4 linked regions of the Homo sapiens genome follow. The protein of the gene in region 2 purifies or fractionates together with the protein of the main gene of each other region. This does not show direct contact. Each region holds a gene or a part of one and is shown on either strand. Other genes may lie near its edges.

Region 1 (3,936 bases), on a different chromosome or scaffold from region 2:
ATGCAGCTATGATTTAATACCGCATGTTTACATATTTACATTTCTTCCCACTGCAAATGGCGCCACGTAGTCTATAAGTGTGTGTTTAAGGTTTTATCATTTTTAACTTTTTATAATAGATTCATGTACATTTTATGATAGCAAATGATAAAACAGACTAGTATCTATATATATAGTATGCATTCATGACATACCTAACTTTTTCTTATTTTATTAAAATATTGCCAGGCTACCCGGTTCGTCCACAAGTTTTTAAAATTGCTGCAATTCTCAAAAAAAAAATCCAGTATATTTATTGAAAAAACATCCATATATAAGTGGACCCATGCAGTTCAAATCCGTATTGTCCAAGAATAAACTGTAATCTGTTCACAAATTGTGAGAAAGGTTAATTTGAAGTTTGAAAAAAAAAAAAACTACCTTTGCAACTGTAATATTACGTAACTGATGTGGTTTTTTTTTAATGTCTACTTCCTTTATAAGGCATAATTTTCATTTTCTAGCAAACAAATTGTTTTTCACAGAATAATAAATCCACTCTAAAATAATATCTTAAAAATATTAGACTGCATACCAAATTTACCAGAATGACAGAATGCAAAATCACCAAGAACTTTTGTAGCCTAAGTTTGGAGCTTGTTGTGTTTTAAAATCCCACAAATCAATCAATAAAATTAAATTAATAAAAATAAGACCTTCCACTGGCGGTAACGCTATCTTATCTGTGAGCATTCCCAGCCTCAATGCTGAACCCAGCAACTAGCCTAGCACCTGCACCTCTGCCCACGCCTCTTCACTTGGCTGAAGTCCCCGCACGGCCGGCGCCGCCCCCTTACCTTTCTCGCTGACGCTCTCGCTCTCCAGCTCCACGTCCTCGCAGCTGGTGTACTCGGGCGTCGACACGCCCTCCTCCTCAGAGCTGCTCACCGACATCTGCCGCTTCTTGCCGCCTCTCTTGGACCGGTGCGGCTTGGGCGGGGACGGCCGCACCGACTCGGACTGGTCTGAGCTCAAAGAGTCGTTCCGCAGCATGGTCTCCACCTTCTCGCGCTTGGCCTTCCGCATGAGGACCGCCGAGCTGGGGTCCAGGCGGCTCTGCTTCCTGAGGGGCTCCTGGGCTTTGAGCTCCGGGGCTTCTGCGGGAACCGGCCCATGTCTGGGCGCCGGCGGGCTGTGGTTCGTTAGCTGCTTGGCGCCCGGCGCCCTGGTCTCCGCAGTTCTCTCAGCCGAGTAAGCCCGCGGCGAGTCCGGCGGCGAGGCCCTGGCTGCCGCCGGCGCGCGTTTGCCGGCCTTGCCCTCCGGCAGCGCCGCGCCCGCCTCGGTGCGCGGGAGCGCCACGTCGCTGTGGCGCCGCTCGTGCCTGGCGCGGGACACCCGGGCGTGCATGCGCATCTGCTGCTCCTCAGGCGGCGGTTTCACCGGGTACCGAGCTAGGTTCGGGTCGCTGCGGTACCTGGTCTGATAATCCTCCTCTTTTCTTTGCTTTTCCTCATCCGCCGCTTTGCCCTCATCCCGTTTTTCCGGCGTGTCTGGGTAATCCTGTGATCGCCCTTTCTCAAGCCTTCGGCTTTCCCGCCTTTCTTTGCGCTCCCGTTCTTCGACGGCCCCCTCCACGGGCTGCGCTGAGGTCTTTGGCACGCGTTTCCGCTCGCTCTTCAGGGCTCCTTTGCCATTCTGCTCGGAAAGCCCTGGGGTCTTCTTTCTATGATATACAAAGGAACGTCAAGGAGAGCAATTTATAAAGACTAGACATAAAAAACATGTTTTCTTCTCATTCCAGTCTTAAATCATTTCAGTTACAATAATTAGTTATAGGGATTTGGATCTGAAGGTGGAACTGTAAGGGTGTTGGAATTTTACAAGGTAAGGGATCTAATGGGAACACATATTAATTATTACCAAATATAGTTTTCATAAGAGTGTCATGCTTGTACTACATTTAGCAGCTCATTGAAGCATAGTTGCTCTTGTTAGAAGTTTACATTGAATCAATTTACTTTTCTTGAAATGCTGAAAAATACTTACCTTGCAAGGTTCATGTGAGGATTAGAGACACCATCTGTGAAGATGTTTTATGAAAGGGTAGAGTGTCATGCAAATGGAAGGAGTTCTCCAGTGTCTCTGATTCTTTGCTCTACTAATTATACTTTTTCTCATCTCTACCTTTAATTTTCTGTTTCTAACTCCTTGACAGTACAAAATACGGTCAAGAATTCTTCAGTAATTTAAAACAAATAAACAGTGTCTCTTTCAATCTTGCTTCTCCCTGAAGTTGCCCAGCTCTTTACACTGGCCACCTCTCTTCCTGCTTCTGTACTTCCCAATTCCTCATTGCTTTCCTGTGAATTTATATCATTAGTAAAGTTATTTGTCCCTATCAATCTTCTTCAAATTTTAACTAAAAAGTCAGAACAAAAAGTATCTATTCAGCCCTTGTTCTTGAAATTTTTATAGTTTTTCACTATATGTCAAAAACAGAACTCTTTTCTCTTTAGAAACTTTACAGCTCCAAATTCTCTATCTTATTTAAAGATATCATCTTCCAACCAGTTCCAAACTGCAGCTTCAGTATTTTTGTCTCTTCTTCTCCCACAACAATTTGTCACCAAATGCTATTAATTCTACGTTCCCTGAGATATCTCTGGTGTCCTTTCTATCCTTTCTCCAAATAGCTTAGTAACACTCATTCTCTTGTACTGCCCTCTTATACGCTGTGTAGCTCCCCTACAACTCCTGAGTATCTTACAAAGCTTAATTGAGAAGTCACTTCCTCTTTCCTAGGGCTCTCAAAATACTATACATATTGCCTAGCTTTGATCAAATTAGCATCCTTGTTAATTACCTAGGTGTCTGTCTTCCCTAGAATAGTGTGTGGTCTCTTCCCTAGGATTTGTCAGAAAAGGGACCATGTATGTTCTAATCATCTTTATGCCCTCTGGTTCCTGGCACAGTGTTTATCTGTAGTAAATACACAATGACTACTGGCTTGAATAATAGCTACATTCACTGAAAGCCTACTATGTGCCAGCTTGGGAACACATGTTCTCTTTTAATACCTGCCACAACCCTGCAAGTGAGTTTTTACTGCCTATTGTGGCAGAGCCAGGACTAGAATCCAGACCTATTTAACTTTGAAGTCCTTGATCTTTTACTGTATGGGCTTTGCTTGAAAAGGGGTTCAAAAGCTTTCCTTGGAGCCTCCTTTCTCCAAGTAATGGTTACACATACAAAAACAATAAGCCCAGTCTAGGTGCTAACAAAAGTCCTGGCCCCAAAATCATGAGCCTCATGAAGATAAGGGCTCTGTCTTCTTTGTCAACACTTTTTCCCAGTGCATAGCTTCATGTTTGCCCATGAATACATTTTTGAATGAATCAATCAAAGTAAATAATCTGATCATATTCGTCCCTGTTTAAATATTCAGTGGCTTCCCTTTCACCTACAATAAAAGCTATAAAATGTAACCTGTCCCTTCACCACCTCACCAGCCTTTTCTCCTCCACATTGCCTCTGCTACTTGCACTGTAGCCAGCAGCTATCCTTTAGGAGGCCCTCACGTTGGGCTTGTTCCTTCAGGCCATGTGCCTGTGCAGATACCTGGAGCACCCATCCTTCCCTTCTCCTGGTTAATTTCAAAGTCACTCTTTAGAGCTCAGCATAAAAGAAATACCCTTAAAGAAGGCTTCTCTGATGTGTCCACATACTTTCTGATAGGTCAGATTCCCCCATCACATCCTCTCAGAGCACACTTTTAATTAAAGGGCTAGGTTTATAAGTGAAACATGATCTAAGAGCTTTTCTGAGTTCATCATTGGAAGTTGGTAGCTCAGCTGGGTGACTTAGTTCATGTTTACATCTGTGCATGATATGAAAGAAATGCTTTCAACAAAGGTCTCCTAAGGAATACATTCTAGAGATAGACAACGCCCCTCAGGC
Region 2 (4,377 bases):
ATTACAGGTGTGAGCCAACTGTGCCCGGCTGATGTTCGTCTTGATTTACCTTTGTGCCCCCAGCACTAGGCCTGGCTGAGAGCAGGCCTGAAAAGTGGTTTGAACTGAATGAGATAAACTGTGAGAATGCTTGACATAACATTCAATAAGCTCAGTGGATTTTGCTATTGGAATATGAATTAGGTGAAATGTCATCTTTTTAGATAAGCTATCTCTGATCTACCTAAAAAGAACTAAACTTTCAGCTAGGTACGATGGCTCACACCTGTAATCCTAGCATTATGGGAGGCTGAGGCAGGAAGATCCCTTGAGCCCAGGAATTTGAGACCAGCAGGGGTAATAGCAAGACCTCATCTCTACAAAAAAATTTAAAAATGGCTGGATACGGTGGCTCATGCCTATAATCCCAGCACTTTGGGAGACTGAGGCAGTCGGATCACCTGAGGTCGGGAGATCAAGATCAGCCTGACCAACATGGAGAAACCCGTCTCTACTAAAAATACAAAATTAGCAAGGTGTGGTGGCATATGCCTGTAATGCCAGCTACTCAGGAGGCTGAAGCAGGAGAGCCGAGGTTGAACTCGGGAGGCGGAGGTTGCGGAGAGCCGAGATCACACCATTGCACTCCAGCCTGGGCAATAAGAGCAAAACTCCATCTCAAAAAAAAAGAAAAAAGAAAAAAAATGTAAAAATTAGCTGGGCATAGTGGCACACACTTGTAGTCCCAGGTACTCAAGAGGCTGAAGAGGGAGAATCCTTTGAGCCCAGGAGTTCAAAGGCTGCAGTGAGCTATGATGGTGCCACTGTACTCCAGCTTAGGTGACATAGTGAGACCCTGTTTCAAATAAATAACCTTTCTTCTTTTATCCTACTAGCCTTATTCTATGCTGAAGAACAAAGTTTAAAAAGTGAAAGAGGCTGGGTGCAGTGGCTCACACATGTAATCCCAGCAATTTGGGAGCCCGAGGCAGATGGATCATAAGGTCAGAAGTTCAAGACCAGCCTGGCCGGGATGATGAAACCCCGTCTCTACTAAAAATACAAAAATTAGGCGGGCGTGATGGCAGGCACCTGTAATCCCAGCTACTCGGGAGGCTCAGGCAGGAGAATCGCTTTAACCCAAGGGGCGGAGGTTGTAGTGAGCCAAAGATCGTGCCACTGCACTCCAGCCTGGGTGACAGAGTGAGACTCCATCTCCAAAACAAACAAACAAACAAAGTGAAAGAGTGCCCAAATATGGGTAGGTTTTGACACATGGGAAGGATGGAAAGAGTTCACTGTGGCTGTAGCATACAGTATGCAGAAACCTGGCCTCTGGGTCTATAAGGTGAGATGGCTTTGTAAACTATACAAAAATGTGAGGTGTATTTATTTGCCCAAACTGTCTTGCCCGTCTGCATCAGAACACTCAGCAGAAAGCAGCATACAGAAGGAACTTAAGGTTTGAAGAGAAATGACTTCAGCCTTTGCAAAAATTTCACCATGATGGGCTGTAAAGCAACTAGGACTCCTTATTGCCTTAACTGTGTCTCTCATTCACTCAACAAATGATTAAGTACCTATCATGTACCAGGCACTATGCTAGTGCTGAGGATTCAAGACTGTCTAAGTCAGTTAAGTTCCTGGCTTCATGGAGTTTACAACCTAGACAAGGAAACAGGGCAGTTTACTACACAGTGTACAGATAGCAAAGACTGGGACCACAGTGGAGGGATGCCTAATCCAGACAAGGGCAGGAATAGGCAGGGAAGGCTTCCTAGAGGAAGTGATTTCCAAGCTGAAACTTGACAGATGGAACAGAAGTTAGCCAGAGATGGGAAAACTATTTTTGGTCAATGGAAGAGCAGGTGGTTGAGATAGAATCTGACACATGAGAGCAAAAAAAAAAAAAAGTTCAGTGATGGGAGAATACAGTGTGAGAATAAGACAATATTAAACTGGCGATATAAGTAAGTGATCATCACAAGGCTTTGTAGGACATAGTAGGGAGTTTAAGACTTTTTATTCTGAGGGCAATGGGGAATCACAAGAGGGAGTTAGGCACTTTACACAACTCATTTGCCTTGGAGGCGGTATAACTTAAGCAAGAGGGAGAAAATGGGCTTTGAAACAGACTTGGACCTAGCTTTGTCACTGCCTCATTTGGTGCCCTTGGACACATCATTTAATAACCTCTCTGGAAGCACAGAGATGAAGCCGGGTGCCATGGCTCACGCCTGTAATCCCAACACTGGGAGGCTGAGGCGGGAGGATGGTTTGCGCCCAGCCTGGGCAACACTGTGAGCCGTGATCACGCCACTGCATTCCAGCCTGGGTTACAGCGGGAGACCCTGTCTCAAAAAAAAAAAAAAAGAAAAAAAAAAAGGTAAGGTTTGTAAGGAGGCTGGTATGTCTAAAGAGTTCAATAAATGATAGTTTTCTCTTCCTAAATACACTGTTAACTCTTTAAATAGGGCCAGGAGCAAATAATTTAGAGAAAGAACAGTGGAATAGAAAGTGCCTTGATCCTAAACCAAGAGATCCGTGTTCAAATCCCAGCACTACGCCTTACTATGTAATCTTTTTCATTTTAGTTTTCCCATTAATAATATTTAATTCGCACAATTAGAATGAAGATTAATATAACGAATGAAAAGCGCTTGGGCTACTATAGGACTCAGTAAATGCTGCTGTACTCTCCTCTCACCACCTTTTGGCTTCAGTCTCCTCTGGAGTAAAATGACGACGACCCCTGCTCAGAGATCAGGGTAGGCTAGATGGTTGGCAGCTGGATCGTGGAGGCTGGCCTAAACAAGGAAGTCATGGAAAGGATCTTAAAGCAGAAAAATGCTGGCAGCCACGAGGCCTGAGGCGCCTCAGGCGTATCGAGGACTTTGAACTTTGAGGACGCATGCGCGCGCGCGGCCGCTGATCGCAGCCCCGTTGTGCCCGCAACGCCTCCTGAAGAACGCGGTACGCGATGCTCACCGAACAGGTGGGAGAAGAGGGCCCGAACGCACGCTCCTACGCGGCGGCTTGGGTTTCGCAGGCGGTTGGGGATCCTCTGTACATCCTTTCAGGAACCAGCCCCTCGTGGGGAGCGTGCACACGGAAGGGGCGGGGAATGTGAAAAAGTCACGTTTTCATTGGTGGCCTCTTGGTGTTGAGCCCACCTCTGTCCTCGCCGCACGCTTCTCGGGGACTCACTTCCGGGAAGGGGCGGAAGAGGTGGGCTGGTGGAGGCGGGGTCGAGATGGCGGCGCCTTTGAGGATTCAGAGCGACTGGGCGCAAGCCCTCAGGTGAATCCAGGCCCAGAACAGAGTCAGAGGAGGCGGGTAGTGGATGTTGCTTTGCGTCAAGGAGAGCCATGCCTGGTCCAGGATATCAATAGGGGTTACTTCGTCAATTGTCGAGGGATATGGAGGGAACAGGGTCCGGAAAAAGAAGTATCAAACCCGTATGGTCATTCTCTGAAAAGCTATCCCTAGGCCAAGGGAGCACATGAGCTGTGTGATCCCCGCGTCAGAACTAGTATCAGTGAGTTGGAGAAAGACAGGGATACTGGGAGGCAGGAAGGCTTTTGGCCAAGCAGTCATTTAGCAAATATTGATTAGTCGTCAGTTACTTCCAGAAGTCTCTGTACTCACCACCACTTTGTGTATGTGATGGAACCTTTGTATTCTCCTAGGCCCCTAATGCTATATTAGGCATACTGGACGATACTATTAAGGAAACTAATACTGTGTCCAGGCCCCATACTGGATGCTTGGTGGAGCTCAGATGTATACTCTAAATATAAGTGATGGTTCCTGCTCTTCAAGAAGCTGACATCCAGGCCAGGCGCAGTGGCTCATGCCTGTAATCCCAGCACTTTGGAAAACTGAGATTGGTGGATCAGTTGAGGTCAGAAGTTCGAGACCAGCCTGACCAACATGGTGAAACTCCGTCTCTACTAAAAATACAGAAATTAGTCGGGCTTGGTGGTGGGCGCCTATAATCCCAGCTACTCGGGAGGCTGAGGCAGGAGAATCGGTTGAACCCAGGAGGTGGAGGTTGCAGTGAGCCGAGATTGCACCACTGCACTCCAGCCTGGGTGACAGAGCGATACTCATCTCAAAAAAGAAGAAAAGCTGACGTCTTAATTAGGAATACACAGCAAACTATTCATTCATCTAACATTTATTGATCTTATACTATTCCAGTTATTTCTCTAGGCTTCAGGATGAATATAGCAGTGCTATATTTGGCAACTGCTACTACTAATAAGGGTTTTTCAAATTGAAACAATGGTGAAGATGAATGAAACATAGCCTTCTGCATTTAAGAAATTTACACCTTACTAAATTTATACCTTACTTAATTTAGGTGGGCTAAAATACAGACTAGTTGCTAGTACA
Region 3 (3,303 bases), on a different chromosome or scaffold from region 2:
GAGATGAAAAGATGCTCTTAATTTATCACAGAACTGTGTATTTAATAGTATGCTTATTAAAATCACGAAGTGTACTGGAATGCTAAGATAAAAGAACTGTATAGTTTCTGTTATGTAATACGAGAATAGAAATGTTATTAAAATCTTTCTATAATTTCCAGTGCTTCTGTTTTGAAGAACAAAGGCTTAATCCCCAAGAGGAAGTAGATATGCCAGTGTTTTTCTACATTGATCCTGAATTTGCTGAAGATCCAAGAATGATTAAAGTTGATCTTATCACTCTTTCTTACACTTTTTTTGAAGCAAAGGAAGGGCACAAGTTGCCAGTTCCAGGATATAATTGAAGTCAGCAACTAAGTCTTCCTTCAAAGTTGTGATTTTTGGGAAAATCATATATCCTATCTTCTCAAAGGAGAAATATTGTACAATAATATGAAGGCTTATATTTTAAATAATTATTTTTTCTCAACTAATTTTTTTCACTTAAACTTGAGAGAACAAGTTCAGCTTTTATCATAAGAAACTCATATGCCTAGCTAGAATATATGACTGACTATTCAATACCATACTGAAGAGTTTGATACTATTAAAATAAGCCGCTTTGTTTTTTAAATATGCAGGCATGGGTTCAGCTTAATTCCATAATTCCCTTCCAGATTATTAACTCTTCATACTTACAGCAATGAATCTGACAATGTTTTTCAAAAATGTATGCTCAGGGTTATTTGTTTCAAGTCATAGGCCAGAACTTCTAACCATGTTTATTGTGTCTAAAAGAGTTGGTTGCTATTTTCCTTCATTATGAATAGTCAGTATTTTAAAAGCTCAAAGTAGAAGAGGAGTCACTAAGCCCTAACAGCTTGTCCAAAGATTTAAATTCTTATTTCAAATTTGATTTGTCCTTTAAGGTTTAGGGCTATTTTATATTCAGAGTTCTGAATAATTACTTTGAAACTGTAGTATCATAAAATTGAAATAAAATACATCTACTAGGCTGTTAGCCAAAGCATCACCATTACAAGTCCATGAATGTTAAAATGTACAGGTGGGATTGTGAAGATTTACTGACATCAAAAGTTCTTCTGGAAACAAACCTTTGTTAAAAAAAAAAAGTATTAAATTGTTTTAATAGTGATTTATTTGTCATCAAATGTACAACTTATTCTAAATATTTTCATTTTCTGTGTTCTAAATAGAAATATTAAGTTGCAGTAAAAAGAGAAAAAAAGGCTATTTAGCATTACAAAGAATCATATTTAAAGGCTGCCCAATGTAGAGTCTAGTGACCTGTTCAGGACACCTGAAATATAATTAAATGACAATTATCAAGGTTTTAACAATTTATAATTCTAAACCAGAGGATTATAAAGAAGTGCAAATTGACTTTTACATTCAACTTTAGTTAAATGAAGGCACTCAGTATTCTTCCTGAATAATACATTCAGTTTCTCACATTTTATGCTTTCATCTATTCAGAATTATTTCATAGTAAAATAATCTACTCTTATCACAGCTGTGTGACGATTTCTAAATGTAGGAAGGCCTGTGAAACATGACACTGCAGTTAAATTGGTTGGCCTAAGGACTAAGTAATTTTTCTTCTGCTGAAGTTTTAAGTGAGTATTTGTTCCAAACAAGTTCTGTTGAAATCTCACGCTGTTGTCAGGAATCAGTGTTATCCTGGAACTGTTATTCTATTTAATCTTCATTATAGCAGAAATGTGCCACCATGGCTTTGACATGTTGGTAGGTATTGTCTTCCAGGCTTCAAAGCTGCACAGAGTCTACGTTTTAGAGAGTTGGCACCTTTGATGTGGTAGTGAGCTGATCATCCACTTTCTTCTAAAATAAAGAGAAGAAAATGGCCAGTATTCATCCTGTCCTTCTCTTTCCCCATTCCTTGATAACTCTCTTGTCTTTACTGGGAAGCTGGAGAGTCACAGTCTAGTAGAAGAAAGGTAAGAATGTGCTTCTTCCATAGGGGAGGGTATAAGGGGAATAAATAAGTTTTGATAGTTCATTGGTGACCATTAAATAGTAAATACATGGGATTAGTAGTGCTGAAAATAGGAAAAATTCAGACCTATTTGGAGGACTAACGGTAAATGGGTCTACTGGTACCGGTTAACAAGTATTAACTGCATATGAAAAACAAATGCCTGATTTCAGTGCTACTCCTATTGCTCATCTATTTTGTTAGCATTAATATTTCTATACCATAAACTACTGTATTCCCAAGCCTTACTATTTACAGATGAGAAAATCACAAAGAATGACTCTCATTAGTGAACAATGGTTCAGCACAATTTGAATGATTCAGGGGAACTCATATTTCAAAGTGTCAGACTCAGATGGCCCTTAGAAAATTTAAATACTAAATATGTAAAGTGATAATTATACTGAAATTATATGGAATATGGAATTAAGTTGTATAAGTTGAAGTCTTTACCTCAGTCACCATCATTTTGAGCTCCTTTGTGCTGGTGAGCATCAATTTCTTCATAAATAGCTCTGAAACAAAGCCATCACAGCAAAAGGGTTATGTATCAATTTCAAAGTGCTATTTTGGTTTTTAACTGCCAGCACTGTAATTAAAAATTGAGCTGGTTTTGGAGTTCAGGCTACATATGAGTAAAAATAAGTCTCTGCCCTGAAGTGTGTATTCTAGTTTATTTAAATTCTAATGTTGCACTTCATTTTTTCTTTTTTTTTGAGACAGAGTCTCACTCTTTTGTCCAGGCTGGAGTGCAATGGTGCTTTCTTGGCTCACTGCAACCTCTGCCTCCCAGGTTCAAGTGATTCTCCTGCCTCAGCCCCACGAGTAGCTGGGATTACAGGGACACACAACCATGCCCAGCTAATTTTTTTGTATTTTAAGTAGAGACAGGGTTTCACCCTGTTGGCCAGGCTGGTTTCAAACTCCTGACCTCAGGTGATCCACCCGCCTCGGCCTCCCAAAGTGCTGGGATTACAGGTGTGAGCCACCACACCCGGCCTTATTGTTGCAATTCCTATGTCTCTTAAAAGTATGTATTTCATAGAACCAATTAATTTTTTCTTGTGATTGAAATGAGAAATATGACTCAAATTTGGACAGTTTATGTTTTGCTTAAAAAACTCCTCAGTTTCTTCTGGTTTCAAACTTTTTAAAAAAATATTAGGACAAGTGCAGTGGCTCACACCTATAATCCCAGCACTCTGGGAGGCTGAGGTGGGTGGATCGCTTGAGTCCAGGATTTCAAGACCAGTATGAACAACATGGCAAAATACCATCTCTACAAAAAACATAAAAATTATCATGTG
Region 4 (4,688 bases), on a different chromosome or scaffold from region 2:
CTAGAGAGAGGTTTCAACACTGGCTGTGTCCTTTTCTGTGTGTGTGCAGGTATTTTCTGTCCTCTGCACCACGTGCTCATCCTTTGGGGGCTACACATTTTCCAGATTCCCTCTACATTCTCTTGCTATCTTCACTATGAAAACATTTATCGGTTGCTGCTATTGCATGAGATAACTACACAGCTTTACTTTGAATTATGCCTTAATAAACTCAAATTCCTTGGAGTTCCCTTCTCTCTGTGTGCTGTGATTTGCACAGGCCATATATTTTGTTGGTCAGAAGTTCTACGGGGTGGGCCTCGATTTTTTCATCCCTAAGGAAATCCACTCTTGGTCCTATGGTCACCTACTGGGTGCCTCCTTCGGGTTTTGCTAACCTTCCTGGCCACAGTTGCTATACTGCCAATTGTCACACATAAGCCCACTCCATTTTGATAAATAATGTGTTGAATCTAATGGAACTCTTTAGAAACTGGTATTAAAAGAATCCCCAGCCCATTCTGATCTGCAGAACTAGTCTCTCCCACCAGTGCCTGGACTATTTTAACCCTATGCCCAGGACAGTTTCCTAGCATAGTCATCTCTAGAAAGAATATTTTCCTGAAGCAACAGATTTTTTGCTCCAGAATATTTCTTACTTTCCTTTTTCAGTTTGCTCTTTGTCAATCTGGATTAAAAAAAATCACTCTAAGCATATGAGAAATTGCAGCACTGGAAAAAAATACTGTCATTTCAATATCTTCTCATTTCCCCCCTCCCAATGTCTCCCTCTCTCTCAACACTCCCGAAGCCCATGATGTAAGTTAAATGTAGCTACATTTTTGTCCTTTCCACTTATTTATGTAATCATAACTAACATTTATTGTGTGCCTAAGTGTCAAGCATTGTAACAAAATATTTAATTAAAAAGTTATTCTTTACAACAACCCTACCATTATCATTATCCTTATTTGACAGAAGGAAAAAAAATCTGAAGTTTAAACTTTCCAAATTCAAGAAACATGTCCAAAGACATTGTTACAAACTGAATATTATATGTTCTCCCTGCTCCTCTCCCCACTCCCATATGCTAAAGCCCTAACTCCCAATGAGATGGAATGTGGAGGTGGGGCTTGGGAGGTTATTAGTTTTAGATTAGATCATAAAGGTGAGGCTCTCTTGAGGGATTAGTGGTCCTTCCTGAGACAGTCACCTGAAGGCAGAGTGAGAAGGCAGTCAACTGCAAGCCAGGAAGCAGGTCTGCATCAGGAACCAAATCTGTTCCCACCTTGATCTTGGACTTCCCAGCCTCCAGAACTGTGAGAAAATGTTGTTGAAGCCACCCAGTCCACGGTGTTTTGCAATAGCAGCCTGAGCTCAGACACAGAGCCAGGAAGTAACCGAGAGCCAAGACTCAAAATCTGCATCTATTCATACCCAAGCCCTTCACCACAGAAATACTCCGTTTATCATTTTTAATGGCTGCCTAACAGTTTGTTGGATTGAATTTTCATGATTTACGTAAGTATTTCTTAACTGATTTGGGTTACAGCCAGTTTCCATTTTGTAAGAGACTAGTGCTTAAAGCATCTTTGCATATATCTCTTTGTTCTTCTTTTGAACTATTTCCTTCGAATAGATTCCCAGGAGGGGTGTCTGATAAGGTACACAGCTCCTGTTACCTACTGGTGGCTGGCCAAATTTTATTGTTGCTGGAGAACTTCAGATCCCAGGGCAATTCATTAGGCTGCTTCTGACAGCAGCAATTACAGCCATGAAGTAGTTACCGCTAAAACCACCATCCTTTTTCAAGGGGTTATAGAGAGCTCGTCGGTAACTGTGACCTGTTTCTATCACCTGTGGTTCTCAGCAATACAATGCTTGGCACACAGTAGGCTCACAGCAAATGTCATCAGACTGACTAGAGACACCAGTGATTAGAAAGGCCATAGCTGGAAGTCAAGTTGGATGAGCTAACATTCCACAACGCCAACGCTTTTATTTAGTTACGTATTCTTTCAATATTGCATTTCGAAAACTTCAGGGGCTAAAAAGAGCTCAGAATGAGTTGGTACATTTTCATCAGTTGGGTATCTCTGAATGTCTTCAATGAACACATATAAAATTGGATTCAGAGTGGGTCAGTCTGGCAACCGCCCAGGAAGCCAATCCCCTGGGGCACTAAGTTACCCTGAAATAGAACTGAAATACAGGGGTAGCTGGCACAGGTCTCCCGAGGTGACTCCTTCCTGCTTGGTGAAATGTGCAGGTACCCAGATCCAAGAGAGGATCCAAAAGTATTTAGCAGAAACACACACACACACACACACAGAGAGAGAGAGAGACACACACACACAGGCTCGCCCTGGTCTCTGTCTCAGTCATTAACAATGGCTGTCACCTTAAAGAAGGAACAAATGATCAACCCAGTCTCCCTGGCTCTTAGACACATTTATGGGAAGTCAGCAGGGCAGGAAACACTCACAGGAACCCCAAGTCTGAACTGCCTGCTTCTCAGATGCTGGAAGGAAGCCCGCGGAACTACGAAGAGGGCTGCAATGCAAAATACTAGGGGCCTTCGCAGGGGCGCGCGGGCCGGGCTGCTACAGCCCAGGCCCCGGGCCTTCGCCTGGAGTCCCCGATAGGGGTCAGAGGCCCCCGAGCCCCACTTATGCCCCCACTCCCCGAGCCAAGAAAAAAAAAATTATGCGCACATTTAGGGGGATCATTTGTTCATTTCCTCGGATTCTCACAGGGGTCAGTCCCCACCCTGCCGCCACCAAGTTTACAATCCACTGTCCCAGATCCTCGGGCTGGGGGGGGGGAGGGGCGCGCCGAGGAGGGCTTAGTAGGAGGGCAGCGCCCGGCCTGGACCGGCCCTAGGCTCCCGGGTGCAGCCGGTGAAATGAAGCCGAAAGCCGTAGGCGGCGGCGGGGCCTGCGGGACCCGCGTCCTACCTGCCTCCCCCAGTCCCGGCCCGGTGCCGGGCCCGCCGCCGCCCGCTTGGCCCCGCACCGCCCGCCGAGGCGCAGTTCCGAGGGTCAGGCCCCGGAGCAACCAGAGGAGCCGCGCCATGACGCCCGCTCCGGCGCCGCTCCGCCCTCTGCCCTCTGCCCGTCTCTGCCCCTGCTCCCATCCCACCCCTCCCCCATTCTCTCCCGTCCGCCTGCGCTAGTCGGCCTCCCTCCCCACGCTCCGCCCACACCGCCAGTCCCCTCGTCTCCCTCCCCCTCTTCTCCCTCCCCTGCCCCTCCCTCCTTCCCTCCTTCCCACCTGCTCCTCCCACTATGTGCCCTGGGCCCTCCCAGGTCCCCGCCCCTCTTTCCTCCCACTCTGCCTCTCTCTCCCCCTCCCTCTTCCTCTCCTTTTCCCCTTGCCTTTCCTCCCCCTTCCTCTCCCCCTTCCTCTCTCCCTTCCCTTCCATGAGACCCTCCCCAACCCATCTCTGCATCTCCCAGCTCCTCCCACTCCTGCTCCTCCCTCGCCCTGCCCCCCTCCACCTATCCCAACTCCACTCATCCGCAGCCCAAACACTGATCTGTTTTAGTTTGCATTTTCTAGAGTCGTCCATAAATGGAATCATCCCATATGTACTTGATTTTGTCTGGCTTCTTTCACTCAACATAGTTACTTTGACATGCCTGCGTGTTTTTGCATGGAACAATCATTCATTGCTTCCTGAGCAGTATTCCATTTATGGATATACCACCGTGTGTTTAGTCAGCACTTGATTTAGCCTGCTTTCAATTTTTCCTGATTAGAACTACAGCTGCTAGGAACATCCCTGTGCAAATCTTTGTACAGACATATACGGTTTTTCCTCTCTGGGGTAAATACCTGGAAGTGGAATGCCCAGGTCGTAAGGTAGGTGTAACCATTTAAGAAACTACTATACTGTTTTCCCAAGTGGTTTTTTTCTTTACCTTCCCACTAGCAGTCTATGCGAGTTCCAGTTGTTCTTCATCCTTGCCAACACTTGAAAGTCCAGAGATTTTAACTGTAGATGTTCCGGTTCTGTGTAGTGGTAGCTCATTGTGGCTTTATTATGCATTCTCTAATCGTTAATGATGTTAAGCATCTTTTCATGTGCGTATTTGCAGCGAGTGTATTTTCCTTGGTGAAGTGTCCGTTCAGATCTTTTGCCCATTTAATGTTGAGTTGTTTCATTATTGAGCTTAGAACACTTTATATATTTTGGATGCAAATCTTTTATCAAACATATGCTTTACAAAGATTTTTTTTCCCAGTCTCTTGTTTGTCTTTTCTGTCTCCTAATATTGTCTTGGGAAGAGCAGTTTTTAATTTTGATGAAGCCCAATTTATCAATTTGTTAATGGATTGTTCTTTTTTTGGTATCATATTTAAGAAATCTTTGCCTAATCCAAGATCACAAAGATTCTCTCCTATGTTTTGTTCTAAAATTTTTATAGTTCTAGGTTTTACATTTAGGTCTCTGACCGATTTAGAATTTTTATATATGGCCAAAATTTTTGTTTTGTTTTGTTTATCTGTTTTGTTTTTTGCATATCTATATCCAGTTGTTCCAGCACCATTTTTATTGATTGATTGATTGATTGATTGAGACAGAGTCTCTGTCGGCCAGGCTGGAGTGCAGTGGCACGATCTTGGCTCACTGCAACTTCCATCTTCCAGGCTCAAGCAATTCTTCTGCCTCAGCCTCCTGAGTAGCTGGGATTACAGGCGTGTGC

Evidence for each region.
Region 1: the proteins of COA4 (region 2) and RIMS1 purify together in Homo sapiens (co-immunoprecipitation; one large-scale study listed by IntAct). This does not show direct contact.
Region 3: the proteins of COA4 (region 2) and COX11 purify together in Homo sapiens (affinity purification with mass spectrometry; one large-scale study listed by BioGRID and IntAct). This does not show direct contact.
Region 4: the proteins of COA4 (region 2) and MSRB2 fractionate together in Homo sapiens (co-fractionation; one large-scale study listed by BioGRID). This does not show direct contact.

Annotation. Positions count from the first base shown.
Region 1 is NC_000006.12:72,180,050-72,183,985, reverse strand, and holds part of RIMS1 (regulating synaptic membrane exocytosis protein 1), read right to left. Parts: intron 1,703-3,936; coding exon 837-1,702; intron 1-836. UniProt on the Homo sapiens protein: Rab effector involved in exocytosis. May act as scaffold protein that regulates neurotransmitter release at the active zone.
Region 2 is NC_000011.10:73,873,790-73,878,166, forward strand, and holds the start of COA4 (cytochrome c oxidase assembly factor 4 homolog, mitochondrial), read right to left. Parts: upstream 3,058-4,377; 5' UTR 2,968-3,057; intron 2,953-2,967; exon of another isoform or gene 2,910-2,952; intron 2,787-2,909; exon of another isoform or gene 2,690-2,786; intron 687-2,689; exon of another isoform or gene 632-686; intron 1-631. UniProt on the Homo sapiens protein: Putative COX assembly factor.
Region 3 is NC_000017.11:54,959,774-54,963,076, reverse strand, and holds the end of COX11 (cytochrome c oxidase assembly protein COX11, mitochondrial), read left to right. Parts: exon of another isoform or gene 1-156; intron 157-161; coding exon 162-344; 3' UTR 345-1,750; coding exon of another isoform or gene 1,751-1,812; 3' UTR 1,813-2,450; coding exon of another isoform or gene 2,451-2,511; 3' UTR 2,512-2,655; downstream 2,656-3,303. Other genes in the region: TOM1L1 (TOM1-like protein 1), read right to left, coding at 2,451-2,511. UniProt on the Homo sapiens protein: Exerts its effect at some terminal stage of cytochrome c oxidase synthesis, probably by being involved in the insertion of the copper B into subunit I.
Region 4 is NC_000010.11:23,093,975-23,098,662, reverse strand, and holds the start of MSRB2 (methionine-R-sulfoxide reductase B2, mitochondrial precursor), read right to left. Parts: upstream 3,085-4,688; 5' UTR 3,055-3,084; coding exon 2,937-3,054; intron 1-2,936. UniProt on the Homo sapiens protein: Methionine-sulfoxide reductase that specifically reduces methionine (R)-sulfoxide back to methionine.